Regions from separate parts of the Homo sapiens genome. Here region 2 is linked to region 1. The links come from fine-mapping of genetic effects on gene expression. Tissue or cell type: whole blood. Region 1 holds a variant in brackets; the other region holds the start of a gene. All regions are shown on one strand. Distances are from middle to middle.

Region 1 (5,255 bases):
CTACTCAGGAGGCTGAGACGGGAGAATTGCTTGAGCCCAGGAGAGCAAGGCTGCAATGTGCTATGATCACACCACTGTACTCCAGCCTGGGCGACAGAGCAAGAGCAAGACCCTGACTCTTTTTTTTGAGGTGGAGTTTTGCTCTTGTTGCCCAGACTGGAGTGCAATGGTGTGATCTCATCTCACCGCAACCTCCACCTCCTGAGTTCAAGTGATTCTCCTGCCTCAGCCTCCCGAGTAGCTGGGATTACAGGCATGTGCCACCACACCTGGCTAATTTTGTATTTTTAGTAGAGACAGGGTTTCTCCATGTTGGTCAAGCTGGTCTCGAACTCCCAACCTCAGGTGATCCGCCCACCTCAGCCTCCCAAAGTGCTGGGATTACAGGCATGAGCCACCGCGCCCGGCTGACCCTGTCTTTAAAATAAATAAATAAGTAAATTGGCAGGCACTGTGGCTCACACTTGTAATCCCAGCACTTGAGAGGCCAAGGCAGGCAGATCATTTGAGGTCAGGAGTTTGAGACCATCCTGGACAACATGGCGAAACCCAGTATCTACTAAAAATACAAAAATTAGCCAGGCATGTGGTGCATGTCTGTAATCCCAACTACTCAGGAGGCTGAGGCAGGAGAATCGCTTGAACCTGGTAGGCGGAGGTTCCAGTGGGTCGAGATCGAGCCACTGCACTCCATCCTGGGCGACAGAACGAGACTCTGTCTCTCAAAAATAAATATCTAAATAAATAATAAATAAATGAAATCAGTTTTAAAAGCTGCGGAGCCCTGCTGAGGATTTTCCCGTCCAGCGAGGCTTTCAATCCCAGAGCATGTAAGGAAGACTGGGGAGAGAGGTCTGCACTTAGATGGCCAGACACCAATGACCCTGAGCCTGTCTGGTACAGGGCCCTACTTTGTGACACCAAGGTCTGCAGAGCCCAGGGCGTCCTGGCCAAGGCAGTGGTAAGATGTCACCAGGCACAGTGGTATGGCCTGAGGGCAGAGCAGCCTCACCCTGGGCAGGGTCTTCTTCACCCTTGTGTTGTCTCATGTTGGCCCCCTCCAGCACAGGCACAAAGAGGGCTCCCACCTGACACGCTGGCATTCCCAGAGGCTGTCACAGGTTAATGCCCCCAACACAGGTAGAGATCGCACACATCCCTCCTCTTCCCGTCCTCCCCAGGGTGAAAAACAACAGCAACATCAAACAACTGAACAGAGATTTTGGCTTGGAGAGTAAAGTTCAGAGCTGCCCCGCCCCTCCCTTCGGGGTGAGAGGTCACTCCAGCAGCGCTGTGGGTAGCAGGGAAGGAGCTATTTACAATCCCGGCTGGGGTCTAAGCCTCGCTGCCACGTGGGTTTGCCACTCGGGGCCTGCAAGTCTGCCGATATCCACCAGGTGGCGCAGCACCTGGGCTGGGACTCGCCGGAGCTGTGAGGGGAGCTTGGGATGGGTTTGCGGTCGGTGGAGCGGGTGTTGGTCCTTGAGGGGACTCAAGCAGCTGCGCCGTAGGACCCTCTGTTCTCAGGCCTGGGGCAGGGTGGGCTAAGGCCCAGCCCACTCTCCGTCCATTTCTCTTATCCCCACTCTCTTCTTTTCCTCCCCTAGTTGTAGATGCCATGGGGTTGGGAGTGGACTTGGGCTCAGTCCACAGCCGTCCAGCCCAGACCTACTCGGCACGCAAATCTCGCCATTCTCTCTCAACCTCCATGTTCCGTCCAGCTGGCAAACCAGGGATACAGACTGGGCTGGAGGTACGTGGCAGGGACAGAGGCGTGGACTGGAGGTGGTGGTGACGGGGCTGGGGGGCCATGGATTGGAATGAAGGACACAAGCTGGGACCAGGAGACAAGGACTAGGATGAGGGGGGCGGGAGGATATGGAGGGGGGGAACGAGGGGCATGAGCTGGGTTGGGGGCATGGACTGGCAAGAGGGGTCCAGGTGGGAGGTGATGGGAACACAGGCTCGGTGTCTGCAGCCTGTGGACGACAGTCTGGGGAAGTGTGACGCGGATGGGATAGCCCAGATGTGCTGGGGCCAGGTCAGCCAGAGACACACTGGGCCCAGAGCAGCAGAGCAGCTTCAGGCTGAACCTAGTGATGTGGCCTGTGATCTGACTCCAAAGAGGTCTGGCCTCCTCCAGTCTCCTCCGG[T/C]GTGGCCTGGGGGAGGGGCAGATATGACTCCTCCCCAGAGTGTTAGCACCAAACTCTTGGCCTTCGCCACAGCATCTGGCCCCAGGTAATTACAGGGGCCAAGCCTGGCTATAAAAGGATGGATGGGCCAGCCTAGGAACCTGGGAGAGCTAGGTTCAACTGACCGGAGGTCCACCAGCCTGCCTCTGAGAGGCTGGCATTGGCCAGGGGATACTAGAGTTTCACATTCAATGGCATACACTTCATATGCCATACACCAATCATATAATCTCATAACCTTGCAACCACACACAGTCAATCAAACTCGGTGCTGAGGGAGAGGGGGCTGGGGGGCAAAGCAGGGAGGAAAGCAGGGGCTTTGTTCACACCACTGAAGTGGGAGAGGCCCCCCACGGGACTGAGGGACCAGTCCAGGCACCCACAGGAGGGAACACGCACACACACTCATCCATCACTTGCACACACATCCATGTGTGCACATTCGACCCGTTTTGCGGCCGTCACACTCAAGCCATTCATGGGTATTAGGCACATACTAACGCCCCACTGTCTATAACACACTCACGCAGGCACCAGACCCCACACAGGGCAAGGGGCTCCCAGGTACCCTGAGCCGCGCTTGCATCCAGGGTCACATACGGTGACACACTTGAGGGCTGGCATTCAACAGATGATACAATTCTCTAACACGGACCCAATGACAATCCCAGCCAAGCCAACTGGGCAAACCCTAGAGTCAAGAAAATCAGAAGAGGGAGGAGGTGGGAGGGGGTAGATCAGAGCCACATTCACACCCTCTGGAAACCGATAGGTCATTTCAACAGCCACAGGAGACACAAAAACAACCTCTAGGACCCCAAGGATATACCCAGACACATACACAAACACAAGGAGAGGCAGGGGCTTCTCAATCACATCCATATGTGCACCCACAGATACGTGCCCACACCCAACATCACACGCAGTGCCCACCACATTCTTCCCAGGGACCTTGGGAACCTCCTACCCACTCCTGCCTTGTGCTGGTGAAGGAGAAGACAATGGTGGGGAGCAGAGGGGGCTGGGAAGAGTAAGAGCTAAGCTTGAGACAGGAGAAAGCCCTCTTCCCACACCACAGACATGCCTGCACACACACACACACACACACACACACACACACACACACACACACATACACAGATGCCAGACCTTGAGCCTCCAGGGAGAGCCCTGAGGAGAAATCAACAGAGGCTGTCCAACTCCACGTGGGGCCATGCCCATATCTGACCACCTGGACACCAGCACTGCCCACTCTGGGCACAGACCCCAGGCCTGGCCTCTCTGCACCATTAAGCACACTGGGCATGGAGGGTGACCCTCGCATCCCTCTGTGACCCCAGGCTTGTCACTTGGGTGCCCTTCAGGGCCTGGCAGGACCTGGTCTGACAGTGGAAAAAGCAAATATTCTCAGTGCCCTCCTAATACGGCCCCCAAAAGAGGCCTTAAGAGCCTTCCTCCCTCCTTGCAGGCTAAGCACACAGCAGGCATCATGCTAACCCCTGGGTATACAACCCCGAGTCTGGCGGCCATTTGGCTGGGCCTCTGGCCAGAGTTGTCAGGGAAGACTTTGGGAGAGATGAGAGGCTTGAGGGATGATTGGCAGTTTGCCAGCTAGGGTGTGGGTGTTGGCTGGGAGGGACTACGAGGGGAGACAGGCCAGCAGAGGGGGCAGCATGATCAAAAGGACGGAGGCTGCTGTGTTTATGTTTCACAGCATAAGCAGTCACAAAAACATTCACACTCACAACAGAGCACGCCCTTTTCACACAGGGCGCCTTTGTACACATGTGCACCCTCCTGGAGCAACACTCTGCAGTTTGTTCGCTCCAGGCTGCCCTCACACCACTCCGTGGCACCATCCCCGCAGTCTCCATGAGATGACATCCCTTAGAGATCCTCTCACACCTGCACCCTGCTGAAGGGCTGCCTGTCTGTGGGTGCCCACAGTGAGCACCCAGAGTTGAGGGAGCCTCCTCTCCTGGGACAAGTGGTTGGGAAGCCGGGGACATCTGAGCAGTCCCTGAGCCTTCTAGGGCTGGAGCGAGCAGAGAAGCCGAGGAGACTGTGGCTGCCTGAGATTCTTAGAAGCAGCAATTCTCTTTTAGCCAAAAGCACTTAAGCAGAGGCCTGAGTTAAAAATAGGCTGGATTTACTGCCAGAAGGTGGCAGGAGAGGAAGTTTCTTTCTGACGGTACTCATTCTATCCCAAACACCTACAGAGGCTCTATGGGACCCTGCTGGGCTGGGGAACTCCACCCAACTGTTCTGTGTGCCAAGGGGGTGGCCAGCACACCCCTTGTGATCTTCATTTTATCTCCTTTATTGGTTCATAATACTACACTTACATTTTTTTGTGGTTCTTTTAGGATTACACAATGCTTCTTTAACTTATAGTCTATCTCCATCAAGTAATATCACACCACTCAGCGCAAACACCTTCCTCCCATTCCCCACCTCTCCGCCTTTGTGCTATTGTCACCATGGATTTATTTCTACACATGCTATAAGCCCCACAATACATTATTAGATTTGCTCTAAACCCTCAAGTATCTTTTAAAGAGAATTTTAAAATCAGAAAAATATCTTTTCTATCTACCCACATATTTACCATTTCCAGCTCTCTTCATTCCTTTGTGTAGACGGAGATTTCCATCTGGTATCATTTTTCTTCTGCTTGAAGGACTTTTTAAAGCCGTTCTTCTAGTGCAGGTCTACTGATGATGAATTCTTTCAATTTTGGAATGTCTGAATGCATCTTTATTCCATCTTCCTATTTGAAAGATATCTCCACTGAATTCTAGGTTGACAGTTTTTATCTTTTCGTACTTTAAAGACATTACTCCACTGTCTTCAGGGTTGCATTGTTTCTGACGAGAAATCACTTCTATTTTTCCTTTTTACACAATGTGTTTTTTTCCTCTGGCAGCTCTTAAGATTTGTGTCTTTATCACTGGTGTTCAGCAGTGATTAAGGCAGATTATGATGTACCCTTGGTGTAGTTGTCTTCATATTTCTTCTGCTTAGGGTTTATTGAGCTTCTTCGACATAGGGATTTATAGTTTC
Region 2 (5,000 bases), 160 kb after region 1:
GTGATCCGCCTGCCTGGGCCTCTCAAAGTGCTGGGATTACAGGAATGAGCCACCGTGCCCAGCATAGGACCTTCTTGACTCTACCCCACCATCCAGTCCCATTCTCTAAAGCACCCTCTCCTGGTCCCAGACCAGCATCACATACTTAACTCACTCCCTGCCATCTCCCCTTCTCATCCTCCCCACTAAACATCCATTCCTCCAATAGATGAGGATAATAGATAACCCATAGCCCCTGGTGCTCAAAAGCCAGATCTGTAGCCATTGTTCCCTCAGGCAAGTCTCAGCACACACACCCCTGCCCCCACCATACCTGCGTGCCCTGGCCCCTGCTCCCTTCTCACCGTATGCACGAGGTCCAGGGAGAAGATTTGGATGCAGCAGACAATAGCAGAGAGTGTACAGATTATAGCGGCACAAATGGTGAGCCCACAGACGCTGAAGAGCAGGTTCTGGGGAAGGGAAAGGAGGAGAGGAGTCAGGAGACGGCTAAGTTCCACACATTATGGGCCTGTGAGTACCCCAGCAGGGGAGGCAAGAGTGAGAACCAGGAGGATGTTTGCAGGGTGCAAGCTCACCTTGAGGGCCCCTCGGGCTTCATCACAGGTGGAGTTAGGGGCAACTTTCAGTTCCTGCCCCGACTCTGGACAGGGCCGGAGGAGGGGAACAGAGGGACAGCACACACAGACCTTTCCTTCCTGAGTGGAGCAGGGAGGGTGAGGCAGCCTGAGTCAGGACAAACTGAGGTGTCCTGCACACCTCCCCCAGCCAGTTCTTTCCAGCTCTCCCTCCTCAAATCTCACCAGAGAGCACTGTTGGAAGTCTCGGGCCAGTTGAGCATTCTTACAGGAGAGAACAGAGCCAGCCATGCTAAGCATGACACAGAGCACCGAAAGCAAGGAGAAGAAGGAGATCTGGGGAAAACAGGGTGCAGACTCAGGGCTGGGACCCTCATGAGTACTCCTCTGCCACGGACAGAGTCCCCCTCCTTCACAGACACTTCGTGCCCACCCGGCTGGCACCAACTGGGGAGCCAGTTCCCTTCTTGAGGACATAAATGGGCTTCCCCTTGCGTGCTGGGCACCTGCCTCCCAGTGGGCACTGGACCCTGGCACCTACCACTAGAGTGAATGGCCGCTTCCAGGACACAATGCCAACCACCCCGGAGAACGCCAGCTGGGGACAGAGTGGGCACAGGCTCAGCCTGGCAGGGGAGGCTCCTGAGTGAGCCCCTCACCACAGGATGCACCCAGCCCTGTAAGGAGGCAGAGGACCAGGAGAGGGAGGAGAGGCAAGCATGTGGACTTGCAGCTGGTGTGGAGGGTGGGGCCCGAGGAGCCTCCCCCACCCAACAACTGTGCACCCAACTCACCGAGAACCCAGCCCAAGACGGGCAGGACCTCTTGATGCTCTCGGTGGTGGTGACGGAAGAGGCCACCATGCTGAAGGTGACCACCAGGATGCCCAGGAGCACTTGGACCAGCCCCAGCGTAAGCAGGGCCTGCAGCCAGGGTCGGTGGAGGCGGAGGTGGGTAAGGCCCCTGGTGCTGGGCCGGCTGGTCAGCGAGCGGCTGGAGTCACTAGGCGAGGGCATCATGCCTGCTGCCCGGTTGCCTGCGCCTCGCTCGGCCCTCCCTGGCACTTGGGAGCATCTCAGAGGCGCCCAAGGCCCCGTCCTTTCTCCTCTCCACCCCACTCGCTCTAGAGCCCACCCCCTGGCTGGGTCCCCTGGGGCATGGCCGAGGGACGCCAGCTGTGGGGGGGGCCAAGCGAGGGGCGTCACGGAGGGACCGCGGAGTGCTCCCTCCCCACCACGGGCACTGGACGGGCACCGTGCCCGGGGCGACGATGAGGACGCGGGGGCACCGGCTCATCGCATCTCCCTAGGGAAGAGGGGCACCGAGAAGGGCCGGTCCAGGAGTGAGGAGGGGGCGGCGGCCTGGAGCCCAGGGAGGGGTGGGGAGGGTAAAAGCGGGAAGGATGGAAATAAGTCTAGAGAAGAGGGGAGGGGTCGGCGTGGGGTGACTCTAGAGGCGCGGTCGGTGTGCCCTCAGGGCGTCCAGTAGGATCCGGGGCCGCCTGGTGGGGAGAGGCCGCGGCGCCGCTGTCTCCTGTGTCGCCTGTCCCGCTCCCCTCCCCACCACGCTCCGCTCCCCGAGCTCCGGCTGCCGCAGGTCGGGGACTAGAGAAGGGGGATGGGAATGGGGATGGTGCGGGAAGGAGGGGCATGGCGGCGAGGGCCGGCGCGGTGCACCCCGGGAGTTGTAGTTCGGGACTGAGACCCTGTCGGGGTTGGGGGATCCCGCGGCAGGGCGAGGCAGTCGGATAAGCGCTCCTCCAGTCCCTGCCTCGCTCTGGACCCTGGCTAGGCTGCTAGTGATCCTTTGGGCCTCCACTTGAGCCCCATCCAGCTTTTCAGGCTCCAGGCCCGCGTATTCCTTGGCGTTCCCGGCAGAGGCGGTGGCTCTTCCCCGTCATTAATGGAGAGGGGTGGGGAGCAGGGCTCCCTGGCGTCTCCGGGTTTCGCGTTTCCGTGGACTTCCCACCTCCTTCCTGCGCCAGCCACTCGGGCTCCACCGCCCCGCCCCTCATATCTCCCAGTTTACACTAAAGCCGGGTCCGACCTTCCCACCTCACTCCACACTCTCCTTTCTCTTTCATAAGGCCTAATTCCCAATGAAGATTCAGGAAACGGGGATGTCAGTTCCAGTTCCACTTTCTTTTTATTTAAATAACCGAAGCAACAGCCGTGGCACAGCAGAGGGAAGCTGGGTTGGGGCGTGTGAGAGGTGGCAGCAGTGTGGCCTGATGGGGGGACTAGGTCACAGTGAACTCCCCACACGCCTGTCAGGTTCAGCAGTCATGGCCATAGGATTGGGAGCACTACGGAGGAGCCATCAGTTAGTGATGTCTCTCCAAGTCCCAGAGACCTTAGGGACGGGAGCTAAGTCAGCTCCCTCAAGTAGCAGGGCCAGGGCATCCCAGTCAGGGGTCACGGGGCCCGGAAGGCATTTTCAGCAGCCCCAGCGGCTGCATTGGCAGCTGCGGTTCGCACCGCAGGGTTGGAGAAGACACCAGCAGCAAATTCTTGCTGGGCCTTCTGAAAGCTGGCACCTGTGCGGCGGTATAAGGAGTGGATCTGCAAGTAGAGGACAAAGACATTACCGCCCATTCCAGCCACTGGTTCCCCACCCCAGCCTAACAGCATCACTACCACTCAGCAGCCTGCTGCCCAGCACACACACTCACACACAGAAACACACACCCCAGAGGTCCATTAGCTGAGAACAACCCAGCAGCCTGACCTGTGCCAGTTGCTCCTGAATGTTCCACCCACGCCCCTGGGGACCCATGATCTCACCATCCCGGCCCCACCTTCGACACAGCCCTCACCCGTTTCAGCATGACAATTCCTAGCACAGCAATGCCAGTGAAGAGCAGGGCGACCAGCAGCATGAGCACGGATACTGCTGTGTTGCCCTTCGGCACCACCAGAGCAGAGATCCAGCCACTGTAAAGGGAAGGATGTACCAGTGAAGAGGGGCTCCTCAGCTTCTCCACTGGTTATGTCACCAGCATCCCCTGTTCCTACCCTTCCCATCAGCAGTGGCTCCCTGTCAATCGAGCAGCATTCCAAGCACCACAATCCCAAACTGTATCTAATCTCTTCATAGTTTAATTCCAGTTTCTGAACCATTAGCCCTGAGCTCTCCAAGCTCTTCCAGGCACTCATCTGGGGATTCTTCTTCCTCCTTTCAACCATGGTTCTATGCCTCCTCCAGGAAGCCACCTTAGATTGGCCAAATGCAGCATTCTTCCCTTCAATCTATATGTGTCAAGAGTGCTGTCTGCGCTCTATCCTGGAAGTATGTCTTGTATCTCATTAAACTAGTACCTCCCAAGGATTAAAACCACATTTCCTTTTTCTGAACAACTCCTATCCCAGCACCCAGTGCTGGCTGGATCTAGAGGGAAAGGTGAGGGTGGATAACAGCCTCACAAACCTGAATCCCCAACCTGGGATACCAATGGCCTGGAGGACAAAGAGCACATCCTGGACGAAGAAAATGAAGAAGAAAACGAAGAAATTGAATGAACTGTCACTCCTACAAAGAGGAAAAAAATGGGGAGGGTGGGAGAAGAATTAGAGCTGAAGGATGGGCAGACGTGGGGCCCATCCCAGGTCTCCATCACTCTCCCACCACTAACACACTTACCGGAAAGCCTTATACATGGGGCGGTACCAGCAGACAAAGGAGCAGGGAGTGAAAAGGAGGACCCAGAGGATAGAAAGCCCAAAGCCTGCGCCATTGTTGGTTTCCACACAGAAGCTGGCCAGGCAGGCGAGGAAGTTCAGGAGAAGAGCCAGCGTGCTGCCTAAGGGGCAGAGGGACAGGATGAGGAGCCCTTCTGGACTGCAATGAAGGCTCCTTCCCATCTATGCTCATCCTATAATATTCACCAAACATGGCAGAGTAAGGAAATGAAGGCAGCTGCTGCCTTCATGGAATCCTCAACAGGGGAGATGGAGAAAGCAAATGTCAATAATGTGTGATCCCCTTGCAAAGACATTTTTTTTTTTGAGACGGAGTCTGGCTCTGTCGCGCAGGCTGGAGTGCAGTGGCGCAATCTCAGCTTACTGCAAGCTCCGCCTCCCCGGTTCACGCCATTCTCCTGCCTCAGCCTCCAGAGTAGCTGGGACTACAGGCGCCCGCCACCACGCCCAGCTAATTTTTTTTTTTCTTTTTTTTTTTTTGAGATGGAATCTCGCTCTGTCGCCCAGGCTGGAGTGCAGTGGCAGGATCTCGGCTCACTGCAAGCTCTGCCTCCTGGGTTCACGCCCATTCTCCTACCTCAGCCTCCTAAGTAGCTGGGACTACAGGCACCCGCCACCACGCCCGGCTAATTTTTTGTATTTGTAGTAGAGACGGGGTTTCACCGTGTTAGCCAGGATGGTCTTGATCTCCTAACCTCATGTTCTGCCCACCTGGGCCTCCCAA

Evidence for each region. PIP is the estimated chance that this variant, and not a neighbour inherited with it, causes the effect.
Region 2: ENTREP3 starts here. The variant in region 1 is fine-mapped to the expression of ENTREP3 in whole blood (INTERVAL, PIP above 0.99).

What each region holds. Positions count from the first base shown.
Region 1 is chr1:155,090,224-155,095,478 of GRCh38, forward strand. No RefSeq gene overlaps it. Among named protein-coding and RNA genes, the nearest start is that of EFNA3, 14 kb to the left of the region's middle. RefSeq lists an enhancer at 3,295-3,909. The variant T/C (reference allele first, on the strand shown) is at 2,154.
Region 2 is chr1:155,253,281-155,258,280 of GRCh38, forward strand. It overlaps ENTREP3 (endosomal transmembrane epsin interactor 3), which reads right to left and starts at 2,203. Exons shown (of 12, transcript NM_006589.3): 1 at 1,373-2,203; 2 at 1,120-1,176; 3 at 804-914; 4 at 579-698; 5 at 345-452. The coding sequence starts at 1,597. It overlaps SCAMP3 (secretory carrier membrane protein 3), which reads right to left. Exons shown (of 9, transcript NM_005698.4): 6 at 4,218-4,377; 7 at 4,005-4,106; 8 at 3,394-3,511; 9 at 2,701-3,139. The coding sequence ends at 2,993.